3 separate regions of the Homo sapiens genome follow, and regions 1 and 3 are each linked to region 2. Evidence: fine-mapped expression QTL. A gene starts in region 2. Each other region holds a variant in brackets. All regions are shown on one strand. Distances are between the middles of the regions.

What was found. PIP is the estimated chance that this variant, and not a neighbour inherited with it, causes the effect. A credible set is the group of variants that fine-mapping cannot tell apart.
Region 1: its variant is the best candidate, but not a certain one, in a credible set for the expression of CD300E in whole blood (TwinsUK, PIP 0.53).
Region 3: its variant is the best candidate, but not a certain one, in a credible set for the expression of CD300E in whole blood (INTERVAL, PIP 0.52).

The regions. Positions count from the first base shown.
Region 1 is chr17:74,576,056-74,580,294 of GRCh38, forward strand. CD300LD (CD300 molecule like family member d) reads right to left here. Exons shown (of 4, transcript NM_001115152.2): 4 at 3,310-4,058. The coding sequence ends at 3,947. Among named protein-coding and RNA genes, the nearest start is that of CD300LD-AS1, 6.5 kb to the right of the region's middle. The variant A/C (reference allele first, on the strand shown) is at 2,516.
Region 2 is chr17:74,621,582-74,625,820 of GRCh38, forward strand. CD300E (CD300e molecule) reads right to left here and starts at 2,157. Exons shown (of 4, transcript NM_181449.3): 1 at 2,001-2,157. The coding sequence starts at 2,040. LOC101928343 (a long non-coding RNA gene) reads left to right here. Exons shown (of 4, transcript NR_158152.1): 4 at 3,946-4,239.
Region 3 is chr17:74,594,495-74,598,733 of GRCh38, forward strand. No RefSeq gene overlaps it. Among named protein-coding and RNA genes, the nearest start is that of CD300LD, 4.3 kb to the left of the region's middle. The variant A/G (reference allele first, on the strand shown) is at 1,882.

The DNA.
Region 1 (4,239 bases), 46 kb before region 2:
AAAAGAAAAAGAAAAGAAATTCTACTCAAATAGTGATCTTGTTGGGAAGATGTCCAAGTTAATTCAGTTACAGAGATCAACATCATATATCTTTCATTTCATTAGACTTGTCAACATCTTTCCAAGGAAATTGCTTTTGGATTTGTCATGGATATTCGATTTTGCTTTATTTGTTTGCTATCATTTTTGTAATTAGTTTCTGCTACATTAGACCCTTTATCCATCAATACCACAGTGTTTATTCAAATATATTCCCACTACATGTCTATGAATGTTATTGATTATTGAGTATTGACTAGAGAAAGAATCTCTTATATGGGTAGCAAGAACAGAGAAGTTAGCTTATAGAAAGAATTAAATCAGTAAATTTAGACGCAATTGTGCAAATTAGCTAGTCTTGACAGGAAAGAGAAACTTTGAGATATTCGACAAAATAAGAAAGGAAAATGGCAGAATGAGAATCGATTTGCATTCTTTCAACCATAAGAATGAGGATGTTGATCTGGTTAACTGCCTCTTGCTAGTAGATCTGGGGAGGAATTGGAAAGACAAAGATTGAGGTCGTGAAGGGGAAGAATAAGACAAGTAAAGCACAGTCACGTTGAGCTGCTGGTTTTGGTGACCTATGGCTCCCCGGCGGCTGTGATTGGAGTCTGAAGCTGAGAAGTCATGAGGCTAAATGTCCCGATTGTCTTGCCAAGCTGCTTAGACCTTGCCACTTAGACCTTGTTGCTTAGAAGGAGACACCAGAAACCAGGAACTTGAGGCTGGGATAAAGCAGATGCTTTCTCTCCTGGTGCTCTGGGAAGGGAGTTTGAAGTAATCTAGGCAGCTTGCTGCTTGTGCCTTCATCCTGGCGGGCAAAATCACCTTGAGTGGAGGTAGAACACGTGTATCTGCCAAACTGTGATTCTCTAAGGGCAAGGATTACATCTCTGTTTTTTTGTTTGTTTGTTGGTTTTTGAGACGGAGTCAGGCTAGAGTGCAGTGGCGCCATCTTGGCTCACTGCAAGCTCTGCCTCCCGGGTTCACGCCATTCTCCTGCCTCAGCCTCCCAAGTAGCTGGGACTACAGGCGCCCGCCACCACGTCCTGCTAATTTTTTGTATTTTTAGTAGAGACGGGGTTTCACCGTGTTAGCCAGGATGGTCTTGATCTCCTGACCTCGTGACCCGCCCGCCTCGGCCTCCCAAAGTGCTGGGATTACAGGCGTGAGCCACCGCGCCCGGCCCCCAAAAGGAAACTCTTGATTTGACCTCCTGCAAACTCCCCAGCCTGATCCTCTTCTCATCACAGTAAATTACACCCATGGTCCCCTTTTTCTCAGACCAAACTCCAGTCACCTGGGCAACATCCTTGGCTCATCTTTTGCTCGTGCCCCAGCCATTGTGTTAACCCAAGACCCTCAGATCTGTCCACTTTTCTCCATTGCCCTCCCACCCCCCTCTTTCTCCCTGATTACCACAGGGCCTTCCCTCTTGAACAGGCACAAGAGCTCCCCAGTCTGACTCTTGTCCCTATTCACTGTGGCTAGATTGCACTTTTAAAAACAGTTACCAGAGGCGGGGCGGGTGGATCACCTGAGGTCAGGAGTTTGAGACCAGCCTGATCAATATGTTGAAACCCCGTCTCTGCTAAAAATACAAAAATTAACTGGGCGTGGTGGCATGTGCCTGTATTCCCAGCTACTCGGGAAGCTGAAGCAGGAGAATTGCTTGAAGCCAGGATGCAGAGGTTGCAGTGAGCCAAGATCGCGCCACTGCACTCCCGCCTGGGTGACAGAACGAGGCTCCGTCTCAAAAAAAAAAAAAACAAGCAAACAAAAAAACCAACAATGAATATCATCAATACAAAAACCACCATACTGACAATATTAGTACGGGGAAGAGGATGGTGGGAAAAGAGGAAGATACAGAAGTCCTCATCTTTTGCTGCAGAGAGTCAATAGAAAGATTCAATAATGTTGTTAAAAACAAGATGAGAACGTGGGAGCTCAGAGAGTGTTATGAGTTGGTGGGGTGTCCACACTGGGTGGGGGCTGGGAGCAGCGCTGGTCAGAGCCTGGGCAGCAGACAGGACATGGGTCAGCCCAGAGAGGGGCGGCAGAGCTCATGAAGGGTGAGGCTGGGGGTGGGGGAGTCTGGATAATAACCATGATTTCATCATTTTCTAGCTGAGTGATCCTTTATCTTTGAGCCTGTAGACTGCCTTCACGGCACTTACCCAGGTCTTTTTCTTTATTTCGGTGATAGTTGTACTTGAACAGTGCCTGATACTTAGTGGATGCTTAGTAAATGTTTTCGCTTATTTTTTATTTTTATTTATGTATTTTTTGTGACAGAGTCTCCCTCAATCACCCAGGCTGGAGTGCAGTGGTGCAATCTGGACTTACTGCAACCTCCACCTCCCAGGCTCAAGAGATTCTCATGTCTCAGCCTCCCAAGTAGCTGGGATTATAGGTGTGCGCCACCATACCCAGCTAAGTTTTGTACTTTTAGTAGAGATGGGGTTTCACC[A/C]TGTTGGCCAGGATGGTCTCAAAGTCCTGGCCTCAAGTGATCTACCCACCTCGGCCTCCCAAAGTTCTGGGATTACAGGAGTGAGCCACTGCGCCCAGCATTTTGGAATGAATGATGGTGGGGAGTGAATAAGGGTCTCACCTGGGTACAGAGATTGACCTGACAGAGGGCAGTTGGGTGATCCTGGTTCATGTTCCCAGAAGGGAATTTCTGTTATTTAGCCTCTGTCTTAACCACCAGATGATCCCACTGGGCAGGGGGCTCAGTCATTAGAGTCCAAGACTGAGCACCACCCTGGGGACCCAGGCAGGCGGTACTGAGGACCCAGCCATCCCCAGCTCACAGTTCTAGCTCTGGCATCCAGTTTATGGATTATGTCACAGTCCCCAAAATGTATGGGTGATCTCCCCATATACCCCAAATTGAGAGTAGCAGCCAACTGCAATACTCTTAAAAGAGGTAAGAAAATGTAACAATCAACACTAATAGAAAAGTCTTACAGTGACGAAAGGAGGCTGTGTTTTCCCATCATCTTCAATCGTACTCATCCAGGAATCTCCTGACTTCCCTTCCCCACAAGTGGCAGGAGAGCAGCTGGCACGGCAGCCCGGAAACCTCTGCTCTCTTCTGTACTCATCTTCCCTTAAGTTGGCCCATTACCAGAGTTTGGTTCCGTTTTTCTGTTTTCATGGGTTTAGGATTTTGAAACCCATTATTGACTGGAGACTTGAACCCCACGGAATGCAAAGACAGGTCCGTTAACATTGCATGTGGCTCACAGACCTGAGATCACGAATGTCCACTACGGCATAGGTGCCTCTCGGGGGAAACACATTCTTCTCATGTTTTCTACTGCATTGGAGACCTCAGAAGGAAGAAGGGCTCTGTCAGGCCCCAGGGACTGTGCAGAGAAGGGAATAGCCCCAGGTGGCACGGCTGCAGGAGATAGGGGACTAGGAGGCTGTTCCCTGAAGCTGGGGCCAGCACTGCCTCTAGAACCACAGTCAATTCCCCATAGAAATGTTGTTTTTCTGCCAGGTGCGGTGGCTCACACCTGTAATCCCACCACTTTGGGAGGCGAAGCGGGAGGATCTCTTGAGGTCAAGAGTTCGAGACCAGCCTGGGCAACGTGGTGGAAGCCCATCTCTACAAAAAAATTTAAAAATTAGCTGGGGGTGGTGGCATGTGCCTGTAGCCCCAGCTACTCTGGAGGTTGAGGCAGGAGGATCGCTTGAGCCTGGGAGGGGAAAGTTGCAGTGAGCAGAGATTACACCATTGCATTCCAGCCTGGGTGACAGAGCAAGACTCTATCTCTAGAAAGAAAAAAAGAAGAGAAAAGAAAATGTTTTTTCTTCTGTGGGAGGGCCTTTCGCCCTGGACAGGACGTCAATGGGCATTGGGACTCTCATCATCGGGCTGACTCCTCCTCCTTCAAGACCTTCTTTGTGGTCTGTTTACCCAGAGGACGGTCCCCAGCATGCTCAGGAGCAGAGGCAGCTCCAGGAGGAACAGGAACAGGAAGTGGGTGCTCTTGAGCGGGGACCTGTGGGAACACGGTGACAGGAAATGAGCTGCCTCCTGGGTCAGAGGTCTCAGGTCTTCTCAGCTCTATGCCCAGATCCTGGCTTCCAATGTCTATGTGAGGGTAAGCCTGGAACCCCAGACAGGCCAGCCCCTTTGGTGGGGCACAGTCACACTGCTCACCAGCGAGGCTCCCAGTCCTC
Region 2 (4,239 bases):
ATGTGCTTGCTGGTTGCTTGAGGTTAATGGGAGCTACTAAATATTGGACAGCAATCAGTTCAGAATGGAAATACCAGATGATGTGGCAGAGAGGTCAGCTATTTTGTCACTATTACTAGGTTAGCCTTATTCTTGACACCTCCATGGCCAATGGAAAGAGCTCTGTGGAGGACACAGATCTGGACTTCATTTCCAGCTTGTCTACTTAGTTCTTATGTCATCAGATCTCCCTTCATCATCTTATTTATAAAGTGGAGTCAATGCTATTTGCCCTGCCTGGGTCACAAAACTGCTCAGAGGGTTAAATTCTATCATCTATTTGGAAGTGTTTATAGGTTATAAAAATGTGTAATAAATAGAATTCTAGTTTTGCTCTTTTTAAATTTTTTACTTTTCTTTTTTTGTAGAAATGGGGTCTTGCTATGTTGCCCAGGCTGATCTCAAACTCCTGGGCTGAAGCATTCCTCCTGCTTTGACCTCCCAAAGCACTGGGATTACAGGTGTGAGCCACCTCACTCAACCAACGTTTGCTTATTTTGTATTTGAATTTGCTTCCTTCCTCTTTGTCATTTCCCCTCCCTGCTAGAATTGCCCTTTCCATCTCTCTTTCCCAGTTAAGATTTTCAGAGGGACCTGCGCAGGTCACATTGCGAGTCTGAGGATGGGGAATGAGATAGGGGTGGAAAGAGAGATGGAAAGGGCAAAGAAAAAGGAAGCAAATTCAAATACAAAATGAGCAAACATTGGTTGAGTGCAGTGGCTCATGCCTGTAATCCCAGTGCTTTGGGAGGTCAAGAGAGGAGGATTGCTTGAGCCCACGAGTTTGGGTCCATGTCACCTACCTGGTCTTCTTCCTTTAAATCGCTGTCATTTTCACTCACCCTTCTAGAAAGAATCTTGTCATTACATTGGGCAATTTCTATGTTTTGTGAGGGAACTCAACCATAAAATTCATTCTGCAAACATGAAGAATGTCCTCTAATTTTTAGCCTAAATTTATTTCCCCAGAGACAAATGTGTTTTCCTGCAGTTTTGTATTTTGAATGTCTATTAATAAGAGTTTCTCTTCTGAAGTCCAACCTTTGCAGGACAGTTTCATTTACTTGTTTACACCACACCTTGTTCCGGGAAGGATTTAAGGTAGATGTTGAGGATGGCATTTTTTTTTTTCAGACAGGATCTCAACTCTATCACCCAGGCCAGACTGCTGCAGTGGTGCAATCTCGGCTCACTGCAACCTCCGCCTCCCAAGTTCAAGCGATCCTCCTGCCTCAGCCTCCCTAGTAGCTGGGACTACAGGCATGCATCACCACGCCCAGCTAATTTTTGTATTTTTAGTAGAGACAGGGTTTCACCATGTTGGCCAGGCTGGTCTCAAACTCCTGACCTCAGGTGATCCACCCACCTTGGCCTCCCAAAGTGATGGGATTACAGGCGTGAGCCACCACGCCCAGCCCATTAATTATTTCTCACAAACCATTCCAACCCCTTTACACTAAGCTTCGTCAAAACAGAACTATTGTTAATTCTTGAACTCTCCATGGTCTTTAATGTCCTCACACTTGCACATAAGCTATTCCTTTCCCACTCAGCCAACTCATTCATCCTGCAGGATGGACTTCCAATGAAGCCTCAGTGACATCTCCCACCCTTCCAAGAGCAAAGTGAGGGGTTCCTGTTGCATACTCTCATCACCACATGAATGAGTCTCTACAACAGTAATTTCCACATTGTATTGTAGTTAGTTGACTCCCTCAGTTCAGAAGTTACTCTTAATTACAGCACCCAGAACAGTCCTGGCACATATCTGGTGCTCAGTAAGTGTTTGTAGGATCCGTGGATGAATGATTGAATGTATAGAAGGATGCACAGGTGAATGAACGGATGTATCTTTCCCTTTTCTGTGGACACTTCACCTCTGGTTTGAACCCAGGACAGCTCTTCTACCTACTGTCCTGCCCCCTGCAAAACCAAGTCCCCAAAGCCACAGCCCCACTCACCTGAGAGGCAGAGAAGGAGTAGAGCTGGGAGCAGCCACATGTTCCTGTCTCCTTGGCTTCCGTCCTCAGCAAATCTAGGTCCCAGCTGGAATCCAAGTATATGTAACGGAGCCTGGGTCATCCACTTTCTACTTGTCCAAGTTTCCTTTGTGTTCTCACTCATCTATTTCCTCTTTTGCCTTTTAAAGAATGCTTCCTAATTTTAAGCCTTACTTAGCAGAAGAGAAAGGGTGGCAAGAGACGTTTCTGAGAATGGACCAAGCACAAACAGGAAAATCTGTTGGCCTTCATTTAATGTGAACGTAATGTTTGAGTCACCCCCTGAGATTTCATGACTCGGAATTTCATGAAAGTCAGTCCCAGTTTACGAAACCTCTCCAACAGAGAAAACTCTGTTCCCTGCCTCTTTCACTCTTCTTCCTATCTGGGATTACTTCATCGATCTAAGGAGCTTCCCTTCTCTATGGCTGCCTACTTTTGAATCATAAAACACCCTCTACTTAAGGAGCTGTGGTGATCACTCCCCATGTCTTTCTCAACCGTTATCTCCATGCGGATGACTTCACACCTCTTCCTCTAACCCAATATCCCAATATCTCTCCTGGGCTCCAGATCCTACTTTCTAACTTCCTATAGGGAAGCTCCACCTGGTTATACACTGTTAACCTAGTTCAGTATATGGGTCATGGTCAACAGCATAGATTCTGAAGTCACACAAACTCAAATCTCATCTCCATCATTTATTAATCATCTGACCTTGGGCATGTTGCCAAATCACTCTCCTCCTCAGTCTCCTCATCTGTAAAATAGAGTACTCATGACAATTCTTTCTCAAAGGGTTGCCACAGGAAATAAATGAGTTAATGTAAGTAAAGTGCTTGATACAGTGCCTGGAACATAGTAACTGCCCAGTTAATATTAAATACCTTTAGAATAGTCCTGGACCATTGAAATAGCTTCTCATCTGGTCCCTCCACTAGCTATACATTCTCTCTAATCCAACTTGCACATCAGAAGATACTCTTCTCTAAGACATAGCTATCTGAAAATATAATTTCTTTCCTTCTCTTTCCCCAGAGATACCCATCTTTGATACCCACAGCCTCTAATCTTTACTATCTTTTAGAACTCTACTGGATCATCTGATATTTCAAACTTTTGTTGTAAGAGCACAACTTCTTATCTTTTCTGTACCACCATATCTGATGAAGTATTATATAGCCAGGCATGGTGGCACGTGCCTGTAATCCCAGCTACTTGGGAGGCCAAGGCAGGAGAATCACTTGAACCCAGGAGGTGGAGGTTGCAAAGCAATGAGCCAAGATCACACCATTGCACTCCAGCCTGGCAACAGAGAGAGACTCCATCTAAAAAAAAAAGAAAGAAAGATGAAAGAAAGAAAGAAAAAGAAAGAAAGAAAGATAGATAGATTATATATAGAATAGAGCCCTGGATGGAACAATAAAACACCAGGACCCTGGTCCCATGTGTGACATGAGCCACACACTTGAGGGATCCAGAATGAGCAGAGCTGACAGTAGCCACAACATTGTGTCTTAGTCCATTTTCTTCTACTATAACAGAATACTACAGGCTAGCTAATTTATAAAGAACAAAAGTTGGCAGGTGCAGTGGCTCATGCCTGTAATCCTAGCACTTTGGGAGGCCGAGGCACGTAGATCACTTGAGGTCAGGAGTTTCAGACCAGCCTGGCCAACATAGCAAAACCCTGTCTCTAACAAAAATACAGAAATTAGCCCTGCATGGTGGTATGAGCCTGTAGTCCCAGCTACTCAGGAGGCTGAGGTGGGAGAATTGCTTGAACCCAGGAGACGAAAGTTGCAGTGAGCCAAGATCACGCCACTGCATTTCAGCCTGGGCGACAGAGAGAAACTCTGTCTCAAATAATAATAATAAAAAAGAACAAATTTGTTCACCTTCCTAGCTTTCTGAAGATGAGAAGTCCAAGAGCATCGTAGTGGCATCTGACAAGCGTCATTCCATGGCAGAAGACAAGACAGCAGGCAAGCCTCCTAGACAGAGAGAAAAAGGGGACTGAACTCAGCCTCTCAGGAAACCACTCTCACAATAACTAACCCACTCCGGAGATAACAGCATTAATCCACTCGGAGGACTGAGCTCTCATGGCCTAATCACCTCTTAAAGACCTCACATCCCAATGCCATTACATTGACAGTTAAGTTTCAACACGAGTTTCTGAGGGAACATTCAAACCATA
Region 3 (4,239 bases), 27 kb before region 2:
GTGGATCACCTGAGGTCAGGAGTTCAAGACCAGCCTGGCCAACATAGTGAAACCCCGTCTCTACCAAAAAATACAAAAATTAGCCCAGCATGGCAGCGCACGCCTGTAATTCCAGCTACTTGGGAGGCTGAGGCAGGAGAATCACTTGAACCTGGGAGGCGGATGTTGCAGTGAGCCGAGATCACACCATTGCACTTCAGCCGGGGTGACAGAGTGAGACTCCATCTCAAAAACAAAACAAAACAAAACAAAAACATGTTTGTGGAACTGCTCCATGAACAAAGCTCCAATTGGGTCCCCAGTCTCCATTCCCACTTCTGACCCACACTCTTCATCACACCTGCTGGCTCTGAGTTCAAAGCCTCCCCTGAGTTTTATCAGGTGGGTCAATTAGAAGTAGGAGTTGCAAAATGCAATTTATTTTATCTGCCCTTTACTCTGAGGGTACACCCAATATGCCCCAGACCACCATACCCCTAATCTTTTGACACGGCAGGCCCCTAAACCAGTGTAGGGTTTATCTCCCAGCCTCTGGAGCACATCCAGTTGCTAGCCTCTTCTTGTTATCAGGTGCAATTAGCATGATGTCATAAACACAGGGGACTACCTTTATGTTCTGGGCAATGGCTGGACGATTCAGGTTTCTTAGAACAATACTACAAGGAGAAGAAAATTAACACAGTCCTGGAACAAGACTGTGAAAGTATACTGTTGTCCATGCCAAGCGAATGCGCCTGCCTCTGTTCCTCCTTCCTGATGGTGGCGGAAAGGATGCTTTTGCCAGATCAACAGTCACACACAACACACCAGGTTATGCTCATCTATTCTAGTAAACCTGTCACTGTTGGCACAGAAGCTGGAAATTTGGCTATTCCTTTAATATGGTGGTGGGTTTGTTGTTGTTTTGTTTTGTTTTGTTTTGTTTTGTTTTGTTTTGTTTTGTTTTGTTTTGGAGACAGGGTCTCACTCTGTTGCCCAAGCTGGAGTGCAGTGGCACAATCATAGCTAGCTCACTGCAGCCTCCAACTCCTGAGCTTCAGTGATCCTCTTGCCTCAGCCGAGTAGCTGACACTACAGTTGTGCAACATTGCACTGGCTAATTTTTTAAAACACTTTTCGGTAAAGAAAGGATCTTGCTCTGTTGCCTAGGCTAGCCTCAATCTCCTGGGCTCAAGTGATCCTCCTGCCTCAGCCTTGCAAAGTGCTGGGATTACAGGTGTGAGCCACCATGCCCAGGCTCTTGGTTTAGTTTTCCCTAGCCCATTGACCTTGGTAAATTAAAGGCAGATCTAGTGGGACCATGCCTTGTTTTCTTTGTCTTGGGGGGTGGCACTGATCTCTGTGTTCCTGGCAGAATGTGATATTGTTTGGGATTTACTATCTTGGCCACAGCAGAGGGACAGCCTCAGCGGCTTCCCCTTGGCCTTCCCCAGTCTGATCACTTTTACCACACAGACCAGAGAGTCAGTATTCATATGCACTGGTTGCTAAGTGTATCCACTTCTATCATTTCTAAAAATCAGGGCAAGAACCACTGGGATGCCTCTCTCATCTCTAGGATCTTGATTTTGCCTCTGGTTCTACTCAGGACTCGCTGCCTGGTCCAAGTGCTCAGCTTGTCTCAGACTGCCCAGTGACTCCACCTGCCCTCTTCCCTTCTGGAATTCTCTCAGCCCCATTGCTCCTATGGAGCTCAGTTATGTAATGGCATCTCCTCCCGTGAGCCTGGCCTACAGAGACAGCCACTGCTGAGCTTCTCCATAATGCTAATGCCCCATCACCAACATAGTTCTTATTTCCCTGGTATTGGAGTATCCTCCAGGGCATCCCAAGGATAACACTCATTAAATACTAATTTAGTGAAACTAGCATATTTTACCT[A/G]AAAACACAATCAAATAATTTCATGTGAGTCTTTTTAAAAACAACCTTGTTTTTTTATAGCAGTTTTAGGCTCACAGCAAAATTGAGCAGGAAGTACAGAGATTTCCCATGTACCTCCTACCCTCACACAGGCACAGCCTCCCCCATTATCAACATCCCCCACCAGAGTGGGACATCTGTTACAATTGGGGAATCTATATTGACACACCATGACCATTTGAAGTCCATGTTTGCATTAGGGTTCAATCTTAGTGTTGCATATTCTATGGGTTTGGACAAATGGATGATGAGAGCATCCTATAGAGTAGGTTCACTGCCTTGAAGATGCTCTGTGTTTCCTTGAGCCTTTTGATCCCTTCTTCCACCCTTCCATGACATCTTTACATCATTGAATGTGGGGTTTTGTTGCTTCTAAGCTTCTCAGGGCCATCCCAGCAGTGTACTAGGACCAGTCTCCCAGCTTTGCAAGTGGTGAGTCCTCCTACATTGCATGGATGAGTACCTCTATGTTGAAAAACCCTTCCTGGCTCAGCACTATAGTCCACTGCCCTGGGATCCACTCTCACACACACTCTTCTAACTGGTTCATGCCAGCGTATATTAGTTCTCCTTTTCCCTTAGCAGCCCAGCGTGTCCCTAGGTGGGCCAGGCTGACACTCAACGTTGGTTATCGGTCAGGAAGAGAAATGAGGGCAGATTCCTCAAGTAGATCCTTAGGGGGCAGCAATGTCTGGTGAGGCATCTGCTTCATTGGAGACCTCAGCATCAACTTCAACAGGGGAGCTGTTACCTTCTAACAAGCATCAGGCCGCTCTGCAGTGGGAGGCTCGAGGGCTCAAATGAATTGTCAAATGTCCCATCTTCAGGTTCCTACTTTTCCCTACAGGAGCCTGACTTGTTGAGGCTAAGGATTGAGTTTTCACTGAAATTTCACTTCTCTTAAACTTAGGTCTTGGCCTGTGTATTAGTCCGTTCTTATGTTGCCAAAAGAGACATACCCGAGGCTGGGTAATTTATAAATGAAAGAGGTTTAATGGACTCACAGTTCCACATGGCTGGAGAGGCCTCACAATCATGGCAGAAGGCAAATGAGGAGCAAAGTCACGTCTTAAATGGCAGCAGGCAAGAGAGCTTGTGCAGGGGAACTCCCCTTTATAAAACCATCAGAACTCATGAGGCTTATTCACTATTGCAAGAACAGTATGGAAAACCCCGCACCCATTATTCAATTACCTCCCACTGGGTCCCTCCTGGTGGGGATTATGGGAGCTACAATTCAAATGAGATTTGGGTGGGGACACAGCCAAACCATATCAGCCTGATCTACGGCACAATTTTTTCTCCAGATAGAGGGAATGGGGATCCCTTCAAAAGCTGCTAAGGAGGGTACCAGAAGCCCGCCAAAGGCATGGTCTAAAATGTTCACAGCACACTATGCATCATGGCCCTGAACTTGAAACTAGCTGAATGCCCATAAATAATACATTTGAAAAAATCATAAAAACAACAAGAAAAGTGTTTCAAATTGTGCACTTTAAATATGTGCAGTTTATTTTATCCCAATTATACCTTAATAAAACTGGGAAGGAAGGAAGGAAGGAAGGAAGGAAGGAAGGAAGGAAGGAAGGAAGGAAGGAAAGAAGGAAGAAAGAAAGTCTGTCTATGGTCCCTGAAGTCCTGCCCCCTCCCATGCGTTCTTGGCTCTAGGCAGCAGCACCAGGGCTCACCAAGACACTCCAAAATCCCAAGAGAAGGTGCAGCTTCAAACATAAACAGAAGGCCCGGATCACACCTGTAATCCCAGCACTTTGGGAGGCCAAGGCAGGCAGATCACTTGAGTCCAGGAGTTCAAGACCAGCCTGGCCAACATGGCAAAACCCCGTCTCTACTAAACATACAAAAATTAGTCTGGTGTGGTGGCACATGCCTGTAGTCCCAGCTACTCGGGAGGCTGAGGCAGGAGAATTGCTTGAACCCAGGAGGCGGAAGTTACAGTGAGCCAAGATCACACCACTGCACTCCAGCCTGGGTGATAGAGCAAGACTCTGTCTCAAAAATAAATAAATAAACAAACATAAACAGATATTGCTCAGGGGCCTCCTCCACTTCCTCCCCAAGAACTGACCCACCACGCCCTCCTCTGCTCCCACTGGCAAAGCTTTCTGCTGCTCTGCCTCTAATCCCCCACCCCTGCAAAGCCCTTTGCAGGTGAAGATATGATGGGCTTTGTCTTAGGAAGGCTAAACTGACAGGGGGTTAAGGAGGGAACACAGCAGGGAGTCGGGAAGCCCCAGGGCCATGGACCAGGCACAGTAATAGACCAATCTTAGAGTGAAGAGGACACGGAATTTAATTTTG